6 separate regions of the Homo sapiens genome follow, and all the other regions are reported to be linked to region 1. Evidence: microRNA targets listed by miRTarBase, many of them from high-throughput screens and not tested one by one. Region 1 holds a microRNA gene; each other region holds the end of a gene's coding sequence.
What was found. The annotated mature microRNA hsa-miR-3689d reads GGGAGGUGUGAUCUCACACUCG and lies in region 1 at 2,569-2,590, opposite strand. An mRNA with a match to its seed (bases 2 to 7 or 8) in the 3' UTR can be bound and repressed. Matches are read on the target gene's strand: a 7mer-m8 pairs with bases 2 to 8, a 7mer-A1 pairs with bases 2 to 7 and ends in A, and an 8mer does both.

Region 1 (4,088 bases):
CCCCCATTCCTTCAGTGGCAGTTCATTGACCACCTGCTGTGTGCCAGGCGGGAGCAGCAGGGGAGAACCCACCCTCAAGGAGATGCCACTCCAGGGGACACGGGCTGACCAAGACCCACAAGGCAGGGGTAAGGTGTGCCCAGAGGAATGAGACCTGAGGAAATGTAAAGGGGAGGAGACAATGTGCATGTGTGTGGTTGTGTGTGTGTGGGGGGGGTGATGTGCATGTGTGTATGGCACGTGTGTGCATGTGCTATGTGGTGTATTTTGCATGTGCTATTTGTGTTTATGTGAAGTGTATGTGTGTTGTGTGTGTACCTGTGTGTGTGGTGTGCCTGTGTGGTGTGTGTGTGTGCCTGTGGGGAGCTGTGCCTGTGTATGTGGTGTGTGTGCCTGTGTGTGTGGTGTGTGTGGTGTGTGTGTGTGTGGTGTATGCCTGTGTGTGGAGGTGGTGTTTGTGCATGTGCCTGTGTGGTGTGTGTGCTGGCGTGTGTATGGTATATGTGTGCGTGCCTGTGGGGAATGTGCCTGTGTGTGTGGTGTGTGCTGCATGTGTATAGTGTGCATGCCTGTGTGTGTGGTTTGTGCTGTGTCTGTATAGTGTGTGTGTGGGTGTGGTGTGTGTGCCTGTGTGTATGGGGTGTGTAGTGTGTGTGGGGTGGGGATTGAAGTGCTCTCCTGGGTGACCAGGGCCACTGGGAAGGTTCTCTCTGCCTGGAGCCCAGCGGGCAGGAAGGGCTTTGCAGGAGAGGGAACAGCAGGGCAGAGGCCAGAGGGAGTGGGGAGAGGAAGGGGAAGTGGGAGGGGGCTGGTGTGGCCTGAGCAGAGATGGGGAGGGAAGCCACACGGGGCAGTAACCCAGACGCAGGCTGGGGGCGGTGCAGACCCATGAGAGTGGGTCACACTCCGGCTCCAGGTGTTTCAAAGATGGGGTTGATGGGATTTGCTGAGAAGAGGAGGTCGAAAGTGAGACGAGAGAATTCCAGGAGATGCTCAGCCACAGGCATGACCCCCACAGTGCCGCAGGAGCACACACACACGCGCACACACGTTTACCCACTGACAGCTGTGGCCTGGTGAGACCAGGCTGAGGACAGCTGCCTCAGCGACCCAGGCTCAGATGCCACCAGTGCCCCATGTGGCCTCGGGGAATCTGCTGCTCAGAGCTCCTGTCTGCCCATTTGCACATGGGACCCATGAATGGAGGAGGCACTCTGGCCATGTGGCCAGAGGCCCCGCTCCTGTCCTGCAGATGTCTTGGTGACGAAACCCGATCCATGCATGTGGAGGAAGGTGGGGGCATCCCTGGAGCTGGCCTGTGCCAGGCCAAAGTGCTCCTTTGAGCTGCCCAGGGCTGTCCTAGTGAGTGTCCTCAGGCTCTGGCCACCCAGGAGGGCCAGGGGCGTCTGCATTCGGGAGTGGGTTGGAGAAGGGGACGATGGGAGAGCAGGAAGCTTTTGCAACTGCTCCAGGGCCATTGGGAGGGTGCAATTGGCTGACACCCGGAACTTCATTGATGCTTACCCCACGTGCCCTCTGTGTGGGTCCCGCTCCCAGTGCGGACACCACCTCCTAGCTCTCACTAGCTCATGCAGGCCTCTGGGGCCCTCCTGAATCCACACCTCCCAGGGCTGGGTCCTGGTTGTTCCCCAATGGGGAGCTGTGCCTCTCTATCACCAGCAGGCATGTGATCACACCTCCCAGGAAGCACAGGATCACACCTCCCAGGAAGCACGGGATCACACCTCCCAGGAAGCACGGGATCACACCTCCCAGGAAGCACGGGATCACACCTCCCAGGAAGCACGGGATCACACCTCCCAGGGAGCACGGGATCACACCTCCCAGGGAGCACGGGATCACACCTCCCAGGGAGCATGGGATCACACCTCCCAGGGAGCACGGGATCACACCTCCCAGGGAGCACTGGATCACACCTCCCAGGGAGCACCGGATCACACCTCCCAGGAACCACGATATCACACCTCCCAGGAAGCACAGGATCACACCTCCCAGGAAGCACAGGATCACACCTCCCAGGGAGCACCGGATCACACCTCCCAGGGAGCACCAGATCACACCTCCCAGGAACCACGATATCACACCTCCCAGGAAGCACAGGATCACACCTCCCAGGAAGCACAGGATCACACCTCCCAGGAAGCACAGGATCACACCTCCCAGGAAGCACGGGATCACACCTCCCAGGAACCACAATATCACACCTCCCAGGAACCACGATATCACACCTCCCAGGAACCACGATATCACACCTCCCAGGAACCACGATATCACACCTCCCAGGAAGCACGGGATCAGACCTCCTGGGGAGCACGGGATCACACCTCCCAGGAAGCACAGTATCACACCTCCCAGGAAGCACGGGATCACACCTCCCAGGAACCACGATATCACACCTCCCAGGAAGCACAGGATCACACCTCCCAGGAACCATGATATCACACCTCCCAGGGAGCACAGGATCAGACCCCCCAGGGAGCACAGGATCACACCTCTCAGGAAGAACAGGATCACACCTCCCGGGGAAGACGATAGCACACCTCCCAGCGAGTGTGAGATCACACCTCCCAGTGAGCGTGGGATCACACCTCCCAGGAAGCATGGTATCACACCTCCCAGGAAGCACAGGATCACACCTCCCAGGAAGCACGGGATCACACCTCCCAGGAAGCATGGGATCACACCTCCCAGGGAGCACCAGATCACACCTCCCAGGAACCACGATATCACACCTCCCAGGAACCACGATATCACACCTCCCAGGAACCACGATATCACACCTCCCAGGAACCACGATATCACACCTTCCAGGAAGCACAGGATCACACCTCCCAGGAAGCACGGGATCACACCTCCCAGGAACCACGATATCACACCTCCCAGGAACCACGATATCACACCTCCCAGGAAGCACAGGATCAGACCTCACAGGGAGCACGGGATCACACCTCCCAGGGAGCACGGGATCACACCTCCCAGGGAGCACGGGATCACACCTCCCAGGGAGCACGGGATCACACCTCCCAGGGAGCACGGGATCACACCTCCCAGGAACCACAATATCACACCTCCCAGGAAGCACGGGATCACACCTCCCAGGAACCATGATATCACACCTCCCAGGAAGCACAGGATCAGACCCCCCAGGGAGCACAGGATCACACCGCTCAGGAAGAACAGGATCACACCTCCCAGGGAAGACGATAGCACACCTCCCAGCGAGTGTGAGATCACACCTCCCAGTGAGCGTGGGATCACACCTCCCAGGAAGCATGGTATCACACCTCCCAGGAAGCACAGGATCACACCTCCCAGGAAGCATGGGATCACACCTCCCAGGAAGCACAGGATCACACCTCCCAGGAAGCACGGGATCACACCTCCCAGGAACCACGATATCATACCTCCCAGGAACCATGATATCATACCTCCCAGGAAGCACGGGATCAGACCTCCCAGGGAGCACGGGATCACACCTCCCAGGAACCACGATATCATACCTCCCAGGAACCATGATATCACACCTCCCAGGAGGCATGGGATCAGACCTCCCAGGGAGCACGGGATCACACCTCCCAGGAAAGCACGGGATCAGACCTCCCAGGGAGCACGGGATCACACCTCCCAGCGAGTGTGGGATCACACCTCCCAGGAAGCACAGCATCACACGTCCCAGGAAGCACGATATCACACCTCCCAGGAAGCACAGGATCACACCTTCCAGGAAGCACAGGATCACACCTCCCAGGAACCACGATATCACACCTCCCAGGAAGCACAGGATACACCTCCCAGGGAGCACAGGATCATACCTCCCAGGGAGCACAGGATACACCTCCCAGGGAGCACGGGATCACACCTCCCAGGGAGCACGGGATCACACCTCCCAGGGGAGCCACAGGTTCTTAATGGGACAAGGCCAGCGCTTAGCAGAAGTGTTCCTGGTGTTTCTTGGTGTCTGCCCATCAGTGGCCCCCACCTGGCTGCCTGTTGAAGTCATCCGGGGAGCCCCCTAAAAGTACGCATTCTAGGTCCACCTCTAGGCCTTCTAAGCCAAGCCACCCGCG
Region 2 (4,088 bases), not on the chromosome of region 1:
AGATACGGGGTTTCCCCATGTTAGCCAGGATGGTGTCATCTCCTGACCTTGTGATCTGCCCACCTCGGCCTCCCAAAGTGTTGGGATTACAGGCGTGAGCCACCACGCCCAGCCCTATATTCTAATAGTTTTTATTTATTATGTTTATTTAAAATTTTTCATCTGTCTCAATACTTCTGCTTCAGATATTATATGTTACCCAGTGTAGGAGGCGGCCTCCAATATAGCCCCCCATGATTCCTGCCTCCTGGTATTCATGCCCTGTATAGTCCCCTCCCATGTTGTGCTAGGGTTGGTCTATGTGACCAGTAACACAGCAGAAATGATGGTCTGTCTTTTCTGAGGTTAAGGTAGACATTGTGGCTTCCGTCTTGGTCACGGTCTCACCTGCTCGTTAGGATGACATGTTGTGAGGAGCCCCACGGAGATGCTCAGGTGGTGAGAAATTGAAGCCTTTTGCCAACTGCCCGATGAGTGGGCCATGTTGGAAGTGGGTCTGTCAGCCAAGTGAAGCTGTCATCTGACTGCAGTCCTGGCTGCCAACTTGAGTAAAACGTCAGGAGAGACCATGAGTCAAAACTACCCAGCTAGGCTGCTTCCAGATTCCTGACCCTCAGAAACTGTGATGGTTTTTATTGTTTTTTTTTTTTTTTTGGAGGCAGAGTCTCACTCTGTCACCCAGGCTAGAGTGCAGGGTCACAATCTTGGCTCACTGCAACCTCCGCCTCCCGGGCTCAACCGATTCTCTTGCCTCAGCCTCCCAAGTAGCTGGGACTACAGGTGTGCCACCATGCCCAGCTAATTTTTTGTATTTTTAGTAGAGACGTGGTTTCACCATGTTGGCCAGGCTGGTCTCAAACACCTGACCTCAGGTGATCTGCCCGCCTTGCCTCTCAAAGTGCTGGGATTACAGGTGTGAGCCACCACACCCAGCTCAGAAACTGTGATGTTTTAAGTGGCTAAGTTTGGGGTAATTTGTTATCCAGCACTAGAGAATGTCCAGTTTATTTTTTCTTTGGTGGAAGTCATACTGCCCTGGTGTCTGGTTATTTTGGTGGTGAACTTACATGCCCCTGAAATTATCCGCTCTCCTGGCTGATAGAACGTACTGAGGAAAGGCTGAAGGCCTGACTCGAGTCAGCTTAATGACCTGGAGCTCCAGGGGTAAAAGGATGTGTGGGAGAGGAGCCAGAGGCTGGACAGCCACAGGTACCACAGAAGCACAGTTATCCCGCTCACCTGCCCTTTGGACACCTGACAATCCCCCTAGCGTGGGGTTCATCTTTAAACCGTCGGAGGAAAACCGCTTTAAGAGGTGCCAGTTTTGGCTGGGTGCGGTGGCTCACGCCTGTAATTCCAGCACTTTGGGAGGCCGAGGCGGGTGGATCACCTGAGGTCGGGAGTTTGAGACCAGCCTGACCAACAAGGTGAAACCCCGTCTCTACTAAAATACAAAATTAACCAGGCATGGTGGCAGGCACCTGTAGTCCCAGCTACTCAGGAGGCTGAGACAGGAGAATTCCTTGAACCCGGGAGGCGGAGGTTGCAGTGAGCTGAGATCGCGCCACTGCACTCCAGCCTGGGTGATGGAGCAAGACTCTGTCTCAAAAAAAAAAAAAAAAAGAGGTGGCAGTCTCCTTAGGTGTAATCCACCAGCCCGGGTGTCTGGAGGGAGACAGGTGGAGGACTGATTTCCTCTGGCTGCCTATTTCTTTCCCCTGCAGGGCCCTTGCTGCCCTGATCCTAGTCCCCCAGACATGTGTACCAGTGGTTTGGATGATTAATGCAATGAAGGGGGCAAACAAGGACCTCCCCAAGGCAATATAGGGGAGAGGTGAGAGCCAGAACTTAAATATCTTTTTCCCTAACCTATCCTCTATTTACTGCCTCTGGCCATCCGCCCGTCAAAACACACACCAGTTAAAGACAGCCTTCCATTTCCCCATGGGTCTCTCATTGCTATGTTGCAATTTCTGGAACCCATGTTTCCCTCTCTAGTTTCTCCAGAGTTGGTTTCGGGCAAAGGAATCAGTAGCTTGTGCTGTCTGCCATCTTTGCAGGAACCAGAAACCCCAAGTATCCTAGAGGAATATTAGAGGTTTCTGCCTTTCAGGGTATCTGAGCCTCCTATTCACAGAAAGGACTCTTCTATCTCTCAGAGGTCCCAAACTACTATCCACAGAATTGGCTTGTCTGGTCCTTCAAACACCTGAGCTCATAAATCACAGAATGCATCCCAGAGGGTATTAGCTGTTTACTGACAAAAGAGACATTTCAGGACCTCAGAAGGCCAGACACTCCCATAGGTTGGATGGCCCTTTGGGGAGTCTGAGCCCATTTCCACAAAATGCATTCGTTAGACCCACACACAGTGCTTGAGCCCCCTAGACACAGAATAGTCTTGTCCTGTTCTTCAAGTGACTGGGCTATCATCTGAGGAATAGTCAGCTTCCCCCCAATACTGGGGGTGACGGGAGACTTTTAAGGGTCATCCCCAGGTTTGTATGGCATTCTTGGGGCAAACAGCAGAAGGGATGACTGCCCTGATGCCTCCTCATCTCTGGCAGCATTGCCTAGTGCAACAGCTCTGGCCAGAACCCAGCCTGGTCTACAGCCATACCATCCTGAACATGCCAGATCTTGTCTGACCTCTGAAGCTAAGCAGGGTCAAGCCTGGTTAGTACTTGGGAGAAGCTGGTGTGGCTAGACCGTGACCTGAGGACCCCAGTTATTTCACCCATCCTTTGTGGATGACAGCACCTGGCCTGTGAGAGAATCCCACCCTCTGAGCATGTCAGTGGGAAAAAGGACCTTTTTTTGATCATTATCCTCCAAATAACGAAGTGAATTCTATTAGGGCCTGCGTTTTATCAGTGCTTGTTGTTTGTCCATATTAGTGAGATGGAGAAGGTAAATAAGTGGTTTCTACTGCTGAAATGGTTAAGACAGGTGCTGTGAGCTGGAATCCCAGTTTAGGGCCGCTAGGCATGGGCTAGGCCAGTCTTTCAAACTGGCTCCAAAGCAAGTGACAAGAATAGGAGCCCTAGATCCTTTTGTAATTCAACAATGTGATGATTGGGCTTTCACACTTGTGTGAGATGCACCTCGCTCAAACCTTGTTAACATCTGCACGGTACCTGTCTGAAGTGGAAAACAAAAAGGAGGCCGAGGCCCCTGCCCAGGGCTGCCAGCATTGGTGCATAAACCTCACAGAGAGGCCAAGATCCTAGAAATGGTGACATGTGGAATGCCAGGGGTGGCTGCTCCAACGTTTCTAAGTAGCCCATACTTCCCAATCTCAGTAAAGAATCTTGTCCTTTTTTGAGCCAGGAACTCTCTTATCTCTCATCCAGGGGGCTGTCCTGAAAACATATATTCACAGCCATAATACAGACCCTTACAGGCCGATGGATGTACCAAAAAAACAGACTCAGGCCTTCCTCAAGCAGTGCTCCACCTGGGCTCACCTTTGGGAACTGATTGTCAGCATCCACTCTCCCCATCACAAGGGGGAAGCTGGAGCCTCTCTCCACCAAGTGAAGTATTTCCCCTCCATCAGGTAAAGGGCCCCTGAGGACTCCATCTACAGCAAAACCCAGGGAGGAGGCAGAGAAACACACAAACCACAGTGACCTTCATGTGTGCAAAGTATAGTTGTTAAAAACAAAACAACAGAAACAGAATAAATAGGCGTGGCCTCTGCGGGGCAGTGCCAAAGCAGAGCTCCACATACTTAGGCCTGGGGAGGAAGGGCTCTATGCTCCAACAAGTCTAGGGCTGGCAGGCAGGGAGGGAGGTGGGGTCTCATGTGTTGGCCCTCATGGCAAAGAATGGAGATCTGGTGGGGCCGATGGAGGGCTTGAGAAAGCCTGATCAAGATGCGGCTGTGGCCTCAGCCCCCTCCTCTGAGTCCCACACCTCTGACTGCAGGTAATCAGCAAAGAGAGCCCTAGCCCGGCGCAGGACGCGCCCCAGGTGGTGTTTTCGCACAAGGCGGTCAAAGTGCATGGCCAGCTCATTATAATCCAGCCCATTGCGCATGATGTGGTCGCGGTGCTCCAGCAGGATGGCCAGGCAGAGGAACAGCA
Region 3 (4,088 bases), not on the chromosome of region 1:
TCCCAGGTGCTGTGGGTCGGAGGCCTCTGTGTCAGCCTGGTCCCGGGTGCTGTGGGTCCCTTCTCCTTGGCGATATCTGACACCTCCACGCTGACAGAGGGCTCTTCCCTGTGCCCCTCTGCAGGTCCGCTACACACAGCTCGTGAGGAAGAAGCAGAAGGCCCAGCACCGCTGCATGCGGCGGGTTGGCCGCACTGGCTCCCGGCGCTCCGGCTATGCCTTCTCCCATCAGGAGGGCTTCGGGGAGCTCATCATGTCTGGCAAGAACATGCGGCTGAGCTCTCTCGCGCTCTCCAGCTTCACCACCCGCTCCAGCTCCAGCTGGATTGAGAGCCTGCGCAGGAAGAAGAGTGACAGTGCCAGTAGCCCCAGTGGCGGTGCCGACAAGCCCCTCAAGGGCTGAAGGCCGAGGATGGATGCCCTGTGCCAGTGACCAGAGCACCCAGGGCTGGCCAGTCACTGAGGGAACAGCGTCTCGGAACTGCTGGTCCTCATTCCTTGCTTCCCGTCCCCCCGGTAGACTCTGTCCTGCTGGTCCCACCACACATGGCTGGGACATCTGTTCCCAGCTGTAGGCCCTTCCACCAGCTGGGGAGCTAGAGGGAGCAGGCCCAAGGGCAGAGCAGAGGCTGAGGCACGGGGAGCCAGCCCCACTCGGGGACCAGAAGTGGAACCAAAAACAAGAAAAAACTGTGAGAGATTGTGTCTGCCCCTGCCCTGCCTGGGACCCACAGGGAGACTATAATCTCCTTATTTTTTTACTCCTACTCCCCAGAGGGGCCCTAGTGCCTCTGTTCCTGAATTACATAAGAATGTACCATGCCGGGAAGCCAGAGACCTGCAGGGGCCTCGGCCCCTCACATCGTGTATGTCTCTCCTTGATTTGTGTTGTGTCCAGTTTGGTTTTGTCTTTTTTTATTTGGCAAGTGGAGGAGGCTTTTATGTGACTTTTATGTTGTGGTTGGTGTCTTAACTCTCCTGGGAAAAGGAGGCTGGCACACACTGGGATGCCGCAGCCTGGCCGGCTGTGGGGTGGTTTGGGAGGATCCATGTCGGCTCTGCCTGCAGTGACCAGTGCTCTGTGGGGCAGAGGAGCTGACCAGGGAGGGAGGTACCCATGAGCAGAGGGTAGTGGGAGAGTGTAAAGGAGGGTTTGGTCCTGTCTGCTTCCTCACCTTGAGAGTAAAGTGCTGCCCTCTGCCCCCAACACACACACATATCAATTCCTGGATTCCTTAGTCCTGCTGGCCTTGGGCTGGAGCCTAGGAAAGTGGCCCCCAAATCCTTAGTGAGCTAAAGCTGGGTCTGAAATTTGGTCAGTGGGGAGGGGTAGTTTTCTTTTCTTTTTTCTTTTTCTTTTTTTCTTTTTTTTTTTGAGATGGAGTCTCACTCTTGTCACCTAGGCAAGAGTGCAATGGCACAATCTCAGCTCACTGCAACCTCCACCTCCTGGGTTCAAGCGATTCTCCTGCCTCAGCCTCCTGAGTAGCTGGGATTACAGGCACACACCACCACGCTTGGTTAATTTTTGTATTTTTAGTAGAGATGTTTCACCATGTTGGCCAGGCTAGTCTTGAATTCCTGACCTCCTGACCTGCCCACCTCAACCTCCCAAAGTGCTGAGATTACAGGCGTGAGCCACCACACCCAGCTCAGGGAGGCGTAGTTTTCTTTAATTTTAAATTTAAACCCAAGTTTATTGGCAGACTCCCTTTTGACCTCCCTTTGCCTCCCCATCTGGTGCTTTCTTGCATCTACACCCCAGGGCCCTGTGGTGGGGCTGCAGGGGGAAGCTGTGCACCTGAGATGAGGCTGGAACGGGAATTGGCCTCTCTGCTCCCTTCTTCAGTAAGCAAGGAGCCCCGCCCCTCAGGCCCAGCCTCTGGCAAGAGGTGGTGGAATCCTTGTGCCGGGTAGTAGAGGAGGATAAGGGCAAAACCAGGCCCAGGCCAGTGCCTGGCTTGGTCTGGATGGGACACTGTCAGAGTTTGGCCACAGCCTGTCCTTTACTTCATCCACACCTATGAAGCTATTCCCTAAATAAGGCATTTCCCAAGTTAGTCGCTACCTAATCAGCCTTGAGAAGAATCCTTTCCTCTTCTTTGATAGTGGGTCGGGGGATTCTTCAGGAATGGTTTGGAGCTGGGAGTGGGTAGGGGGATTTTAAATGTTCCATATGGGAGCCCCAAAGGAACTGGATGGGCTGCAGTGAGGTGGGGGCGGGTGGGCAGGGAATGGGAGAGGGGAAGTCTTGGCAGGGAAATCCCTTTTGGCCACACAGTTTACAAACCCAGTATCATGTCTGTCTGTGTGTCTCTCAAGGTGAGAGTCTGATTTTTATACCAAAGAGGAAATGATTTTTTTTCATATTTTGTTTGTCTATATTATATAAATATATATATACAGTTATATATATATATATTATTTTTTGGTTCTCTCTCGTTTTTTAGGGAGGGAAGAAAGTACCAAGTTGCATTGAGCTGTAATTAAGGAACATTATAATTTATGACACATTTCTATACTTGCAAAAATTATATCATTTTATGGATATAAGAGAAAAATGCCTTTTTATAAAATTTCAATTTCTGAGAAGTGTGTAATTTGTCTCTTTTCTGATGTTTAACCAAGACTGGTGGTGAAAGTAAAGACAGAAACTGTCTCTTAAATGTAATTGAGTGGGTAGATCTGGGATATCTTGGACAAATTGGAATCTGACTGGTGTGGGATAGCACCTCATCCATTTGCAGACCTCCCGGGATCTGAGTTTCAGCTGAAGATGAAGACGGGGCAGTGGGTGGTACTGAGCGGCATATCGTATGGACTTTGGCTGGGTGCCTAGGACCTTGAGCTGTTTACCTTTCTCCAAACGCAGGCCAACCTGTCATCCCTAACACACGCCAGATGGATGTGTGTGTAGGGAAAGTACCTGGTAAATATTGTAAGGTTTTGTTTTTTAACTCTGCGCTTTTCCGCATGCCTCACATCTTCCTGGCTTCTCAAGTGAGTATCAAGGAAGCTAAAGTCTTATATTAAAGGGAGCTTTCCTCCAGGGAAGGGAGGGCGGATGAGGATGGGGTCCTAGGAGTCAGGGCCAGGGTTAGTGCTGGCCTGAGGAGAAAGAAGTATAGCTTCCTCCGCCGATGGCCAATATCAGCATGATCCAGCCCCACCCGCAGGCTAATTTCCCCCTGACCCAGCCAGTCTTCAGTTATGGAACAATCCTTCTCAAAAACGTAGACTGGGTGTGGTGGCTCAATGCCTGTAATCCCAGCATTTTGCGAGGCTGAGGCAGGAGGATCACTTGAGCCCAGCCCAGGAGTTCAAGACCAGCCTGGGCAACATGGGGAGACCCCGCCTGTATTAAAAAAAAAAAAAAAAAGGGTGGGGGAGCGGAGGGTGTATGGGGGGAAGATGTGAAGATAAGATCTGTTTCCCTCTTCAGGAGAAACGGCCCCTGGCGGGAATCCCGCCACAGACCGCCAGGAACACCACCTGACACCCACCTCCACCCAGGGAGAGGCTGTCCAGTCCACACAAGCCTTTCTTTGGGGTCTGTCTGGAACCCTGAGCTTTGGGCAGCAAGTGGCATCTGGCTTCAGTGCCCCCACCCCCGAAACACAGAAAGAAGCCTTAATCCCTTGAGGCTGGTGAGGCCCCAAGTCCACCCCTCCCACAAGACAGGTCTTCAGCACTGCGCTGGCCTCCCGTTGGGGGTCTGTTCAGCCACTGGGAATGTCTTCCTTGGCTCCTCTCGCTGACCCTGGCTCTCCTGCACCCAGGATCCTATTATGTGTGTCTGAGGGGCAGGGCCAATGTCATTTTAACTTTCATTGCCTCTTGGGGACGCGTTTTCTCCGTCGCGATATAGACACACGCCTCCACGGAGGCTCCGGGCACTCGGGCTCCCCGTTTTCTCCCCTCTGCCGCAGGCATCCCTGGTCTTCCTTCCCTGCGCTGACTGAGCACCTGGGCTCCTGTGGGAGTGGCTTCCAGCCCCTAGGTCCCCATCGTCCTAGTGCCTTTTCTGAGTGCGTGGAGGTGAAGTCTGTCCGATACCGCAGCTTTGTTCCACTGAGCCTGCTTATCTC
Region 4 (4,088 bases), not on the chromosome of region 1:
GTGGGGCAGGAGTTCCTGCTGCTGGCAGGGGAGGAAGAGCTGTGTGGGTCGGGGTGGGGTGGGGCCCGGAGGAGCACCGATGTGGCCCTGCTGGTCACCATGGGGGGCTGGCTGACACTCATGGTGGCTTATCTGGTGCATTATGTGTGGCAGAACCGAGATGAGACCAGGCGCTCCCTCAAGCGGGCCCCAGTGCTGCCCGTGCGTTCCGAGGACTCCTCCATCCTCAGCACAGTGGTCTGATGACCCAGGATGCTCCTCCAGCCACACCCCACACTCCTGCCCCTATGCCCTCTCCTTTGCTCTGACCCCCTCTGCCTCCTGTGCAGCTTCACCCCTGCCCCCAAGCCCATCCCACCCCTCCCTCCTTTATTCCCCCTAAATACCTGTGCTGGTTCTCTCTCTCTCTCTCTGTGTCGTCTTAACCAACACCATCTTTGGTGCCTGGAGTTTTTTGGTGCCTACTCTGTGCCTGGATTGTGCTAGACTCAGAAAACCCATAACAGAGAATGACAGCAGGTGGGGTGGGAGCAAGGGAGGAGGGGCTGTGGGGGGGCAGGTTGAGGAGGGAGCCTGCACCTGGCCCAGGGCGATTTCAAAGGCTTCGCTGTAGGATGTTTGAACTGATTCTTTTTTTTTTGAGATGGAGTCTCACTGTGTCAGCAGACTGGAGTGCAGTGGCAGGATCTCCGCTCACTGCAACCTCTGCCTCCCAGGTTCAAGTGATTCTCCTGCCTCAGCCTCCTGAGTAGCTGGGACTACAGGCGCGCGCCACCACGCCCAGCTAATTTTTGTATTTTTTAGTAGAGTTGGGGTTTCACCATGTTGGCCAGGATGGTCTTGATCTCTTGACCTCGTGATCTGCCCGCCTTGGCCTCCCAAAGTGCTAGGATTACAGGCGTGAGCGCGCCAGGCCCGAACTGACTCAGGTGGGTGGATCACCCAAGGCAGCACGCAACGTGAACCCCTTGGGCGATTACAGGCCCACACAGCCCGTCCACCACCAGCTTCTTCCTGCCCTACAGAGCTGAGGCCTGGAGTGGCAGAGAAAGCCAAGGGTACCCTGAGGGAGCCCCCAGCTGAGGGGGAGTGAAGCCCCACCCTTTCCTGAATTGGGCTCACAAACAGAGGCTTCGAGAGCGCAACTCTAAGACTGAGGTCTCCTACAGAGTGAGGGGCATCAAAGCGAGAGGCAACCCGGGGAGCTTATTCCAAAGGGAGGGACTGCCTCCCCCATTGGACTAAAGGGAGTTCAAACTGCTAGAAATGATTTTGCCTTAGGTCTCTGAGAATCTGCCATCATCAACCTCTCTTACCTCCAAGGAACCCATCTCTACTAAAAATACAAAAAATCAGCCGGGCGTGGTGGCAGGCACCTGTAATCCCAGCTACTCATGAGGCTGAGGCAGGAGAATCACTTGATCCCAGGAGGTTGAGGTTGCAGTGAGCTGAGATCACACCACTGCACTCCAGCCTGGGCCACAGATCGAGACCTTCTCTAAAAAAAAAAAAAAAAAGAACAGGGAGAGCTTTGGACAGAAAAGCAAGAGCAGAGAAGGCCCCTAGATGAAAGGTGTGGACAAGGCAAGGAAGATGTGCAACAACTCAGAATGTCTGGGCAGCAGCAAGACTCACCCTGGGGCTGGAAGAGAGGGTGCAAAGAGGGGCAAGGGGAAGGTGGGTGGAACCAAGCTGGAGGCGAGGTCAAAAGCCAGGCTGTGGCCAGATTTAAAAGGACACTGTGGGCTCCTCCTGTCTTCTCCCTCCGCCTCTACTGAGAGCCTCCCCTGGCTTCTTGCTTCTCTTGTCCCCAGGCTCCTCTTCCTCCTGTGCCCTCTACTGAGGATCCCCTCCTCCGACTCAAGGTCCCTAACCAGAGACTCCCTATTTCTCTCCGTCCTCTCCTTTATACACTGATTAGTTTCCTGAGCTCCTTCTTCTGGGGGGAAGGTGGTCTCCTCTATGACTGAGCTGGGGATGGGTGACTGCAGAGCTGGGGGAAGTAAGGAGACCCTGGACAACTCAATAAAGTCACTTTTATCAATGCTCCGATCTCGTATTGCTCATTTTCCTGGGCACCTGTGGCCTGTTGGTGAAGAGAACGGGTGCTGAGCTTGTCTTCAGCCCCTCCACCACCCCTTTGGTCGGGGGTGCTCCTGCTGGGCTGGAGGCCAGCTTCCCATCTCCCCTTCTGCTCCCCAGCCCCTGCCACCAGAGTCCATCTGCTGGACTGGCCAGGACTGTGCCGACACACTCAGAGCGGCTCCTGCATGGAACGACTGCCCCAGAATCCCGGACTGCTCCCTCTGCATCCTGACCCCGGGCTTGTGCTTGTCCACTGGGCAGGCAGGAGGGGGTGACGTAACTGGCTTCACTCCCATCCTCACCTCTGCCATGGACCAGGGATCACAGGACCCTGGGTTTTGAGAAACCACGGAAGCCTGGTGAGGCAGCTGGACAGCCTCGGTGATGTTGCCCGCATCTGCCCTTCTGCCTGGGACAGAGGGAGAGAAAAGGCACGCTCTTCTGGGAGACACACTGTGTCAGTCCCAAACTCTCCCACCAGGAAATGCTGGAACCTGGCTCAGGAACCAAGACAGCCCAGCCTACAGCTAACCCAGGCCTGAGGCAAGAGTTCCCGCGGCCTGGGCCCAGGTCCCAACTTGTCACCACATGCAGCATCAGGGAGCCAGTGGGCTGTGATGAGAGGAGAGGGAGAGGCCTAAAACTGCCTTTGCAAAATGATGACTGAGACAGTGAAAGAGATTTAACTTAACTGATTCCATCTTGCTTTTAACCTCCAAGCTGTCCCCGCTCATTCCTAGGCATAGGCTGAACTAACTTTGGGAAAAACTTAGTTTATAGTTTAAACAAAGACAGTAACAGCCCTTTCCCAAAGCAGACCTCCTTCTTGCCTGGGGACTAGATTGCCTTTGTAGAACTAACATTAGCCACAAGATCAGAAATTATGGTTTAGGAGTCGTGCCGCTGGAGGCTCCCTAAACTGCTCCGAAGATCAGGGCTTGAGATATTTTGCAGACCCTGCACTTGATGGATCAGCTGGCCCCACCCAGATCAATAAACTGGCTCCTCTGATCTTGTGGCCCCCACCCAGGAACTGACTGAGCACAAGAAGACAGCTTTGACTCCCTGTGATTTCATCTCTGACCAATCAGCACACCTGGTTCACTGGCTTCCCCGCAACCCACCAAGTTATCCTTAAAAACTCTGCCCCCGACGTGCTCATAGAGACTGATTTGAGTAATAATAAAGCTCTGGTCTCCACACAGCCGGCTCTGCATGAATTACTCTTTCTCTATTGCAATTCCCCCGTCTTGATAAATCGGCTCTGTCTAGGCAGCACGCAACCTGAACCCCTTGGACGATTACAGGCCCACACAGCCCTTCCGCCACCAGCTTCTTCCTGCCCTACAGAGCTGAGGCCTGGAGTGGCAGAGAAAGCCAAGGGTACCCTGAGGGAGCACCCAGCTGAGGGGGAGTGAAGCTCCACCCCTTCCTGAATTGGGCTCACAAACAGAGGCTTCGAGAGCACAACCCTAAGACTGAGGTCTCCTACAGAGTGAGGGGCATCAAAGCCAGAGGAACCCGGGGAGCTTATTCCAAAGGGAGGGACTGCCTCCCCCATTGGACTAAAGGGAGTTCGAACTGCTAGAAATGGTTTCGCCTTAGCTCTCTGAGAATCTGCCATCATCAACCTCTCTTACCTCCAAGGAACAGTCACCCCAAACCAGGAAGGCAAAGGGAAAGCAGAACAAGGCCCCCAAGCTGCCAAATGGATGCCACCACAAGCCCACCCCTTCATTCGACAAGAATCTGTTGGTCGGGCGCGGTGGCTCCAGCCAGTAATCCCAGCACTTTGGGAGACCAAGGTGGGCCCTGAGCTCAGGAGTTCGAGACCAGCCTGGCCAAGATGGTGAAACCCCGTCTCTACTAAAAATACAAAAATTAGCCGGGTGTGGTGGTGCGGGCCTGTAATCCTAGCTACTCAAGAGGCTGAGGCAGGAGGATCGCTTGAACCCAGGAGGCAGAGGTTGCAGTGAGCCAAGACCGTGCCACTACACTCCAGC
Region 5 (4,088 bases), not on the chromosome of region 1:
AATCCGGGAGGTGAAGGTTGCAGTGAGCTGAGATCGTGCCATTGCACTCCAGCCTGGGCAACAACAGCGAAACTCTGTCTCAAAACAAAAAAAGAAAAGTTACACTAACAAAACCCCAGCTTGTTATAAGACAAGGTTCCTCAACCCCATGCTGATTAATATCTTAGATTCCCTGGTCACTTGCATGAGGAACCCCTTGTCCCTCTGCAGCCAGCTTGCAGACTGGCTTAGCCTGAAGACTGACTGGCAGGGAAGGACTTTTTGGAAACCTCTTAATATAATCTGTCTTTCCTGTAAGTGCAGAACCATTATGAATAGCAGAATTAGATTTTAAAATTGTCAAAGAGCTGGAGTCCATAATTGAACTGAAATTCTCCCATATTCCTGCAACACCACATTCAGGCCTACTGACTATGAAAAATCACTGCACTCACTGGTAGGTATTTCAAATCCAGGCAGAGCACACACCAGTTTATTTTGAAATGCAACACAGATCAGTATTTTATGAATACAACTTATTACTACATTATCAGGTAAAAACAGCTTTCAAATGCATGCATAGAAAGTTAAGCGTAGTCTCTGGACTCCTTATTTCTAAATATACAAAAAATACATTTAAATTATATAATTTTAGTGAATCAAAGACTTATAAAATTACAATTTTGGTTTTCACAACATAGAAAAAATACAAAAATGACTATATATACGGTTGTACAATTTTTTACCCAAATTTCAAAGGAGCAGTATGTATTGAATTTAATGTTTTATAATGTTTTATCTGAAACTCAGAACTGCAAGTAATTTGCAGGTTGTACCATATCAATGCCAACCTTTTATTATAAATGAATAACCAAAAAAATAAGTGAAAAATGAGGGCACGATCTCTTCTTACACCTCTTCAACTCTCCAGCATCTAAACCTTTCCTGTCAGAAGTCTGCTCTGGAGACTTTTTTCATCTGCAAGGACAGTGCTTTATTCCATGACTAACTCTCCATGGTGCCTCTGGATAATGGTTGGTATGTGTTAAATGAATAAGCCCAACCTCAGCAAACAGAACGCAGCAAGATGTAGATTAGCAGTCTGTGCTGACAAAAGCACTACTGCGGACCTCAAAGAATTCTCTGTCAGAAGAAGGCCCCCACGGAGGGATCTGAAATACATAATCAAGTGGGTAGTTGGGAGGATGATGCCTTTGACTATGCCCTGAAATGAAACCTCTAAGTCTGACAAAATACCCACAAAAACATGACCTTCCTTGTTCACACTTTATAAGAAGGTGTGACATTTGGTGGTGTGGTTGTTCTCAATTTATAAAATAATAAATGACTTCAAAGGAGAAATGAATTCATGTTAGGGATAAAGAAACCAGTTACTGAGAGAGGTTACTGAAGGACACAGTGACATGCCTTACTTATCTGCCATAAGTATTCTAAATGTTGATGTACAAAAATACACACTGGGGTTGAGACCCTTTTTGAAAAGGGAGCTGTGTGCTGTGTTCTCATTGCCAAAGTTCAATTCAATGCAACACCACTGTTTGCAACAGAATGTTTTTTATAAGTAGTGACAAATTATAATAAGGAGGCCCAAATAAAACCCCCAGTCCAGCAACCCTGGAAAAGCTGCATTTTTCATCCTGATTTCTAGAATTTTTCCAAAAACAACTGAAAAAATCTAACAGAACAAAGTAAATGACAAATATAACCCAAGTTGATTCTATTTTATAGTAGAAATACATTATGGAAGAATAAAATGAGAGAAAAGTCATGCAAAAAATCTTTCCCACATATTTTGTCTATCAAATACAAGAATAGATTCTAATTTCAACATGTCCAAGTTGAGTGCTGACTTTAAGAAGCAGAATTTTAATGTTCAATTCAAAAATAATTTATTACACACCTGCCTGCATTAAATTTTCAAACTTCTATAAAAATAAGCACTTAAAAATTTAGTTTTCCAGGGGTTGGGTGCAGTGGCTCATGCCTGCAATCCCAGCACTTTGGGAGGCTGAGGCGGGTGGATCACGAGGTCAGGAGATCAAGACCATCCTGGCTAACACGGTGAAACCCCGTCTCTACTAAAAATACAAAAAAAATTAGCTGGGTGTGGTGGCAGGCACCTGTAGTCCCAGCTACTCAGGAGGCTGAGGCAGGAGGATGGCGTGAACCCGGGAGGTGGAGCTTGCAGTGAGCTGAGATCGCGCCACTGCACTCCAGCCTGGGCAACAGAGCGAGACTCCGTCTCAAGAGAAAAAAAAAATTTAGTTTTCCAGTATGAGTTTTCTGATATTCGCAATTATATTTTAAATGACAACTACTCAATAAGCTAAACTTTTAAACTCTTAAAGTTCAACATCAACCCCCACCCTGCCCCCAAAAAAAGGCAGCTGCAGGGGATGGGGGAGGAAAAAAGGCTCCATGAAGAAGATACTGTGCTATTTAATACTTAATGCACATCTAAACTTGGGCTTTCACATTTTCATCCAACTCTTTCTTTCTTATTTTTTTTCAGTTTACCTACAGTTGCAGTACCAATCCTTTCTTGAGGAGTTTTAAATGCATGGTTGAGCAATTAAATTGTATGAGGATGTGACATGGATTAGACAATGTCGGTAGTACCAAACTATTTCTTGGCTGCTCCAACATGCGGAGATGACACTGCTTTTAGCTCATGACAGCCCAAGGGGAATGTTTTACTGACTATGGACTTATAGCTTGGTGGAAATTAACATAGGAAGTTAATTAGCAAAAGTATCCAAACAGAAGAGTGAATGAAAATTTAAAAATAAAACAATAATGGTGTATAAATCTATTCCTGAATGTTTTTCCTGACTACCTTTCTAAAGCAACACCTTCCATGTGCTTTCACTAACACAGCCTCCTTTCCTATGTGACTGGATCCGCTTCTTCAGGGCCATCAGTGCATCAGTGAGAATAGCTACTGGCAAACACGTTACTCAGAGGTGTTCTGAGAATGGTGCTGTGAAAAGGACTTGTCACTTTTGAGCTATTGAGCTCCCCCTTTCTGAGACCTGTCATTTTGTTAAGACATGATTGAGGCTGAGCTCCAGATAAGATATATTCTTTACGGTACACACATACTTATTAGATTCAAGCACGTTTCTTAGTGGCAGGCAGTAATGACTCAATTGGAAACAAACAAAAGGGTTCTAAGTTGTTTTCTGATTACAGGCACTACCCCGAAGCTTCATAGACATATACATTTTATAATTCATTCATTAGATGTGAGGGGATAGGTCCCAGCCATAACTTCAGAGCATTCCAGAGAACAGAGTTTGCCGCTTCAAAAATACAAAGTTTCCAGCATGCAGTCAAGCACTTTGACAAGGGAATGCTAAACACACTGCAGACTGAAACATAACTATACTGCAAGCTGGGCTATTCAGCTGGTACGACTTCATTATTCAGACTGTAACTCTCAAGTACTTAGTGTTACAGGTCTTCATTGATCAGATACATGAAGGACACAGAAGGACATAAAATGCCAAATCCCTTTCTAGTGCCATCATAAATATTAAGAACTTCTGGTTGAAAGAGCATGCTGAAATGAACTGGCCAGGGTGTTTTATGTAACAACCTTTTTCTAAAATAAAATCTCAGGCCCATGTGACACTGGATTTTTGTTTTAGTTTTGTTTGAATATTTTAAAAATAGTTCTTACTTATTTTCTATGAAACGTATTGGGAACTCAAAAAATCTGCAGCATTTTTTGATCATTGAAAAGTTTGTTTTGGTGGGAGGTGCAGAAAGCAGGAACTATTCAAATTTCTTGTGTTCTTCAGTATGAGAAAGGATCTTTCTTCTCTGGTGTATCATGTGGAAGTATAACTGGGGAAAAACTGAAAAGAAAAGAAAAATTGGTTAAGAGGATGGTTTAAAATTGCATATGCTCTATTTAAAGCATATGAAGTTGAGGTCCTCTCTGACCCTCTGACTAATTTCTCATCCAGCAACCAAGGAAGGTAACAAAGTGGGCTTGGGGAAAGGAAGAAAAAACACAGAGAGACTTACCTCCTTTCTTTTCCTGCTTTAGCTGAGGGAAGAAGTGGTGTGGAATACAATGACAG
Region 6 (4,088 bases), not on the chromosome of region 1:
TTTTTTTTTATATTAAACACTAGAAATAAGACTAATTCAAGTTTCGTCTTAATATATTTTTAAAGTAGTAAGCAAAGCTATATCTAAATCTATGCTAATGCAGTAGCCACTAGCCACCTTTGAATTGTTATAAATTATTAAATAAAATTAAAACCTCAGTTTGCTGGAGATTTGAAATACTTAGTAGCCATGTGGCTGCTGCCTACTATATCGGACAGTACAGGGATTCTAGAACATTTTCATTATTGTAGCATTGCTGTGGATCTTTCCAGGGAAATCTCTGCCCTCGTTGATGGAGATTTCACTTGTTAAGATACTTATTGAAAACCATGTATTTGTTTTTTCTGGGAAATGAGAGTAAGAAAAGTTTCTTCAAAACTCGTGACTGAATTTTCCTTGAGTGAGTTTGCTGGATTTTCCTTTGGTGAGAGTTGTGAAATTCTGGGTCACAGTGGCAATAAAACTTCACTTAGATTCTTTGAATGTGATCTAGATGCTGCAGAGTATTAAACATAACTCTAGAAAAACTCAAGGACGAAAATTATAAGCGAATTACAAGTGAGAGGAGAATATAGTCTGAGGTGTTCAAGTTCTTTTGTGTATGTATTTAATTTTGTTCCTATTTTATTTCTAGCTGATTGGAATCTTTCTCGCCTACTGCCTCTCTCGTGCCATAACAAATAACCAGTATGAGATAGTGTAACCCAATGTATCTGTGGGCCTATTCCTCTCTACCTTTAAGGTGCGTTCATTTTGGTCCTCAGCTCTGTTAGTGTTGATATTTATTCTAGCCTGTGTATGTGATGCATGGACTAAGTTTGCCAAGAACGTCTTGTCTAGTAATATATTTAAATCTAGCTGGTGCTATGTAAACCCTGTGTAGGCAGGTTAGGTCTCTATACACAGGGCATGGTCAGAAAGTAATGACTTAGCTACAGCTTATCTATGCATGCTCTCTACAGTTATGCAACAGAAGACTCCCCGTGTGGGTTTATATATTTACATACACATGTCAGCCTAAAGATCATAAGTGGTCCCTTTTTTAACATGTTTTGGCCTGGAGAGAGGAGAAACAAAGAATCCCAAGAATGACCTTATTCGTGAGGTTCCCTGGCAGGTGCACTCTGCTCCTCACCAATATTGACATTTTCCTTAGTCCTTTTCGTAGTTTTCATTTACCACAATCTTAATCAGTTGTTGAGAGTGTGGCTTTCTTGGTAAAAAGATGTTTTTGGTGGGCTTTTGTTAAAACCGTAAACTCATCTGGTCTAATAAGGAACCAGATTTTGGGAAGACATGTGTTTCAATGGCGTTAGTATTTGACTGGTAAAATACTGTGAGAACTGTTGTTGGCTGAATTGATCCCTAGGGCACACTTTGCATTTTACTTGAGCCACTGACTAGGAACACATAGGAAGGTCTTCATTAGCAGGAATAGATTAGAATGTATGTAAGCAAATACAGATGTTGAAATTTGGGTAACAAGTACATTAACTTTTTTTCTTTAATTTTAGGACATTTAGGGTCCCCCCTGTGAATTAGAAAGTTGCTTGGCTGGAGAACTGACAACACTACTTACTGATAGACCAAAAAACTACACCAGTAGGTTGATTCAATCAAGATGTATGTAGACCTAAAACTACACCAATAGGCTGATTCAATCAAGATCCGTGCTCGCAGTGGGCTGATTCAATCAAGATGTATGTTTGCTATGTTCTAAGTCCACCTTCTATCCCATTCATGTTAGATCGTTGAAACCCTGTATCCCTCTGAAACACTGGAAGAGCTAGTAAATTGTAAATGAAGTAATACTGTGTTCCTCTTGACTGTTATTTTTCTTAGTAGGGGGCCTTTGGAAGGCACTGTGAATTTGCTATTTTGATGTAGTGTTACAAGATGGAAAATTGATTCCTCTGACTTTGCTATTGATGTAGTGTGATAGAAAATTCACCCCTCTGAACTGGCTCCTTCCCAGTCAAGGTTATCTGGTTTGATTGTATAATTTGCACCAAGAAGTTAAAATGTTTTATGACTCTCTGTTCTGCTGACAGGCAGAGAGTCACATTGTGTAATTTAATTTCAGTCAGTCAATAGATGGCATCCCTCATCAGGGTTGCCAGATGGTGATAACAGTGTAAGGCCTTGGGTCTAAGGCATCCACGACTGGAAGGGACTACTGATGTTCTGTGATACATCAGGTTTCAGCACACAACTTACATTTCTTTGCCTCCAAATTGAGGCATTTATTATGATGTTCATACTTTCCCTCTTGTTTGAAAGTTTCTAATTATTAAATGGTGTCGGAATTGTTGTATTTTCCTTAGGAATTCAGTGGAACTTATCTTCATTAAATTTAGCTGGTACCAGGTTGATATGACTTGTCAATATTATGGTCAACTTTAAGTCTTAGTTTTCGTTTGTGCCTTTGATTAATAAGTATAACTCTTATACAATAAATACTGCTTTCCTCTAAAAAGATCGTGTTTAAATTAACTTGTAGAAAATCTGCTGGAATGGTTGTTGTTTTCCACTGAGAAAGCTAAGCCCTACATTTCTATTCAGAGTACTGTTTTTAGATGTGAAATATAAGCCTGCGGCCTTAACTCTGTATTAAAAAAAATGTTTTTGTTTAAAAAAAACTGTTCCCATAGGTGCAGCAAACCACCATGGCACATGTATACCTATGTAACAAACCTGCACATTCTGCACATGTATCCCAGAACTTAATGTAAACAAAAAAATCTTAAAGTGCAAATATTAAAAAAAACTGTTCTCTGTGAAAAAAATTATATTCCATGTTATAAAGTAGCATATGACTAGTGTTCTCCTAGAGATCAGACTTTTTTGATTGTATAGTTTGCATTAAAAAGTTGTACAGGGAGGGATGTAACCTGTATCTTCAGGATAATAGGGAAATTAATAAGGAAAATAATAATTACTAAAATTTGAGTTGAAGTCAGGGAATTATTTCTTTGGTTTTGAGTCTCTTTATACATCCATTAGTAGAACCTGTCTAGTCTGATTGCCACAGTCCTTGAATTGATGGTAAGGGGGAGTCAGTTACAGTTAGAAAAAAACCTGGGCAAAAACTACTAGTTAAATGATCATGAATTTTGAGTATGTGTTTTAAAATGCTTGGAGTTATTGCAGAAAAATGATATTCTCCATTAGAACATTTGATGTGTGACTTTTGACATAGGATAAGGTGATAAGAAAATTAAGTTGAAAAATAGTGACTCAAGTACAGCAAATCAGATTTTTGGCTACTGAGATTAAAGAAGCAAATATTTAAAGGATTATCAGCAATTTTCAAATACATATTTTTCACTGCAGTGGTTTTGAAGAATGTTTTAAGGTTATATTTAGAGTTTTTAAAAAAGTTTTCCCTCAGCCAGCCATGGTGGCTCACATCTGTAATCCCAGCACTTTGAGAGGCTGAGGCGGGCGGATCACCTGAGGTCAGGAGTTCTAGACCAGCCTGGCCAACATGGTAAAACACCGTCTCTAATAAAAATGCAAAAATTAGCTGGGTGTGGTGGCAAGCACCTGTAATCCCAGCTACTTGGGAGACTGAGGCAGGAGAATCACTTGAATCCAGGAGTCAGAGGTTGCAGTGAGCCGAGATCACACCACTGCACTCCAGCCTGGGCGATAAGAGTGAACCTGCATCTCAGAAAAAAAAAAAAAGTTTTCCCTCATTATTAAAAAGGAAAAATTATAGAAAATTAAAATATAGAATGTAGAAAGAGGAAAAACACCACACATCACTCGTCAGGTGGATTGGTTTGTTTATTTTTAAGATGGGTTTATTTTGGATAGCCAGTTAGAAAACGCCCTTATAGCTGATGTGTGCTTGTGCATACTGAATTGTATACTTAATTCTGAAAGTAATGAGGAAACATTTCACCTAATGATAACTGGTACAAAGGAAAGTTCACGTGTCTTTAATAGTTTGCTAATTAGACTAGCTGGTTAGAAAGAGGGATCACTAGATTGGAGAGAGAGATCCAGTTTCCACTGGAGGCAGTAGGTCTGCTCATTTCCATGGTGACAATCCTAATGGCAGAGGGAGTGAGTTTCCCTTAGTG

Region 2: miRTarBase lists TBC1D25 as a target of hsa-miR-3689d. Seed matches in the 3' UTR shown: 7mer-m8 at 3,793-3,799.
Region 3: the mRNA of ATP8B2 is a reported target of hsa-miR-3689d. Seed matches in the 3' UTR shown: 7mer-A1 at 1,439-1,445 and 7mer-m8 at 1,444-1,450.
Region 4: the mRNA of LRRC3C is a reported target of hsa-miR-3689d. The part of its 3' UTR that is shown has no 7-base or 8-base seed match.
Region 5: miRTarBase lists HACD2 as a target of hsa-miR-3689d. Seed matches in the 3' UTR shown: 7mer-m8 at 3,758-3,764 and 7mer-m8 at 2,172-2,178.
Region 6: the mRNA of TSPAN6 is a reported target of hsa-miR-3689d. The part of its 3' UTR that is shown has no 7-base or 8-base seed match.

The regions. Positions count from the first base shown.
Region 1 is chr9:134,847,092-134,851,179 of GRCh38, forward strand. MIR3689D1 (microRNA 3689d-1) reads right to left here and starts at 2,591; the gene lies at 2,518-2,591. MIR3689C (microRNA 3689c) reads right to left here and starts at 2,278; the gene lies at 2,207-2,278. It overlaps MIR3689A (microRNA 3689a), which reads right to left and starts at 2,473; the gene lies at 2,396-2,473. MIR3689B (microRNA 3689b) reads right to left here and starts at 3,181; the gene lies at 3,034-3,181. It also overlaps MIR3689D2, MIR3689E, MIR3689F and LOC101448202.
Region 2 is chrX:48,560,761-48,564,848 of GRCh38, reverse strand. TBC1D25 (TBC1 domain family member 25) reads right to left here. Exons shown (of 6, transcript NM_002536.4): 6 at 2,240-4,088. The coding sequence ends at 3,874. Among named protein-coding and RNA genes, the nearest start is that of RBM3, 12 kb to the left of the region's middle.
Region 3 is chr1:154,348,716-154,352,803 of GRCh38, forward strand. ATP8B2 (ATPase phospholipid transporting 8B2) reads left to right here. Exons shown (of 28, transcript NM_001370597.1): 28 at 125-2,589. The coding sequence ends at 403. Among named protein-coding and RNA genes, the nearest start is that of ATP8B2, 25 kb to the left of the region's middle. RefSeq lists enhancers at 1-599, 600-1,583.
Region 4 is chr17:39,944,492-39,948,579 of GRCh38, forward strand. LRRC3C (leucine rich repeat containing 3C) reads left to right here. Exons shown (of 4, transcript NM_001195545.2): 4 at 1-508. The coding sequence ends at 243. Among named protein-coding and RNA genes, the nearest start is that of GSDMA, 16 kb to the right of the region's middle.
Region 5 is chr3:123,491,111-123,495,198 of GRCh38, forward strand. HACD2 (3-hydroxyacyl-CoA dehydratase 2) reads right to left here. Exons shown (of 7, transcript NM_198402.5): 7 at 444-3,860. The coding sequence ends at 3,778. Among named protein-coding and RNA genes, the nearest start is that of ADCY5, 44 kb to the left of the region's middle.
Region 6 is chrX:100,627,413-100,631,500 of GRCh38, reverse strand. TSPAN6 (tetraspanin 6) reads left to right here. Exons shown (of 8, transcript NM_003270.4): 7 at 635-742; 8 at 1,515-4,088. The coding sequence ends at 703. Among named protein-coding and RNA genes, the nearest start is that of TSPAN6, 7.3 kb to the left of the region's middle.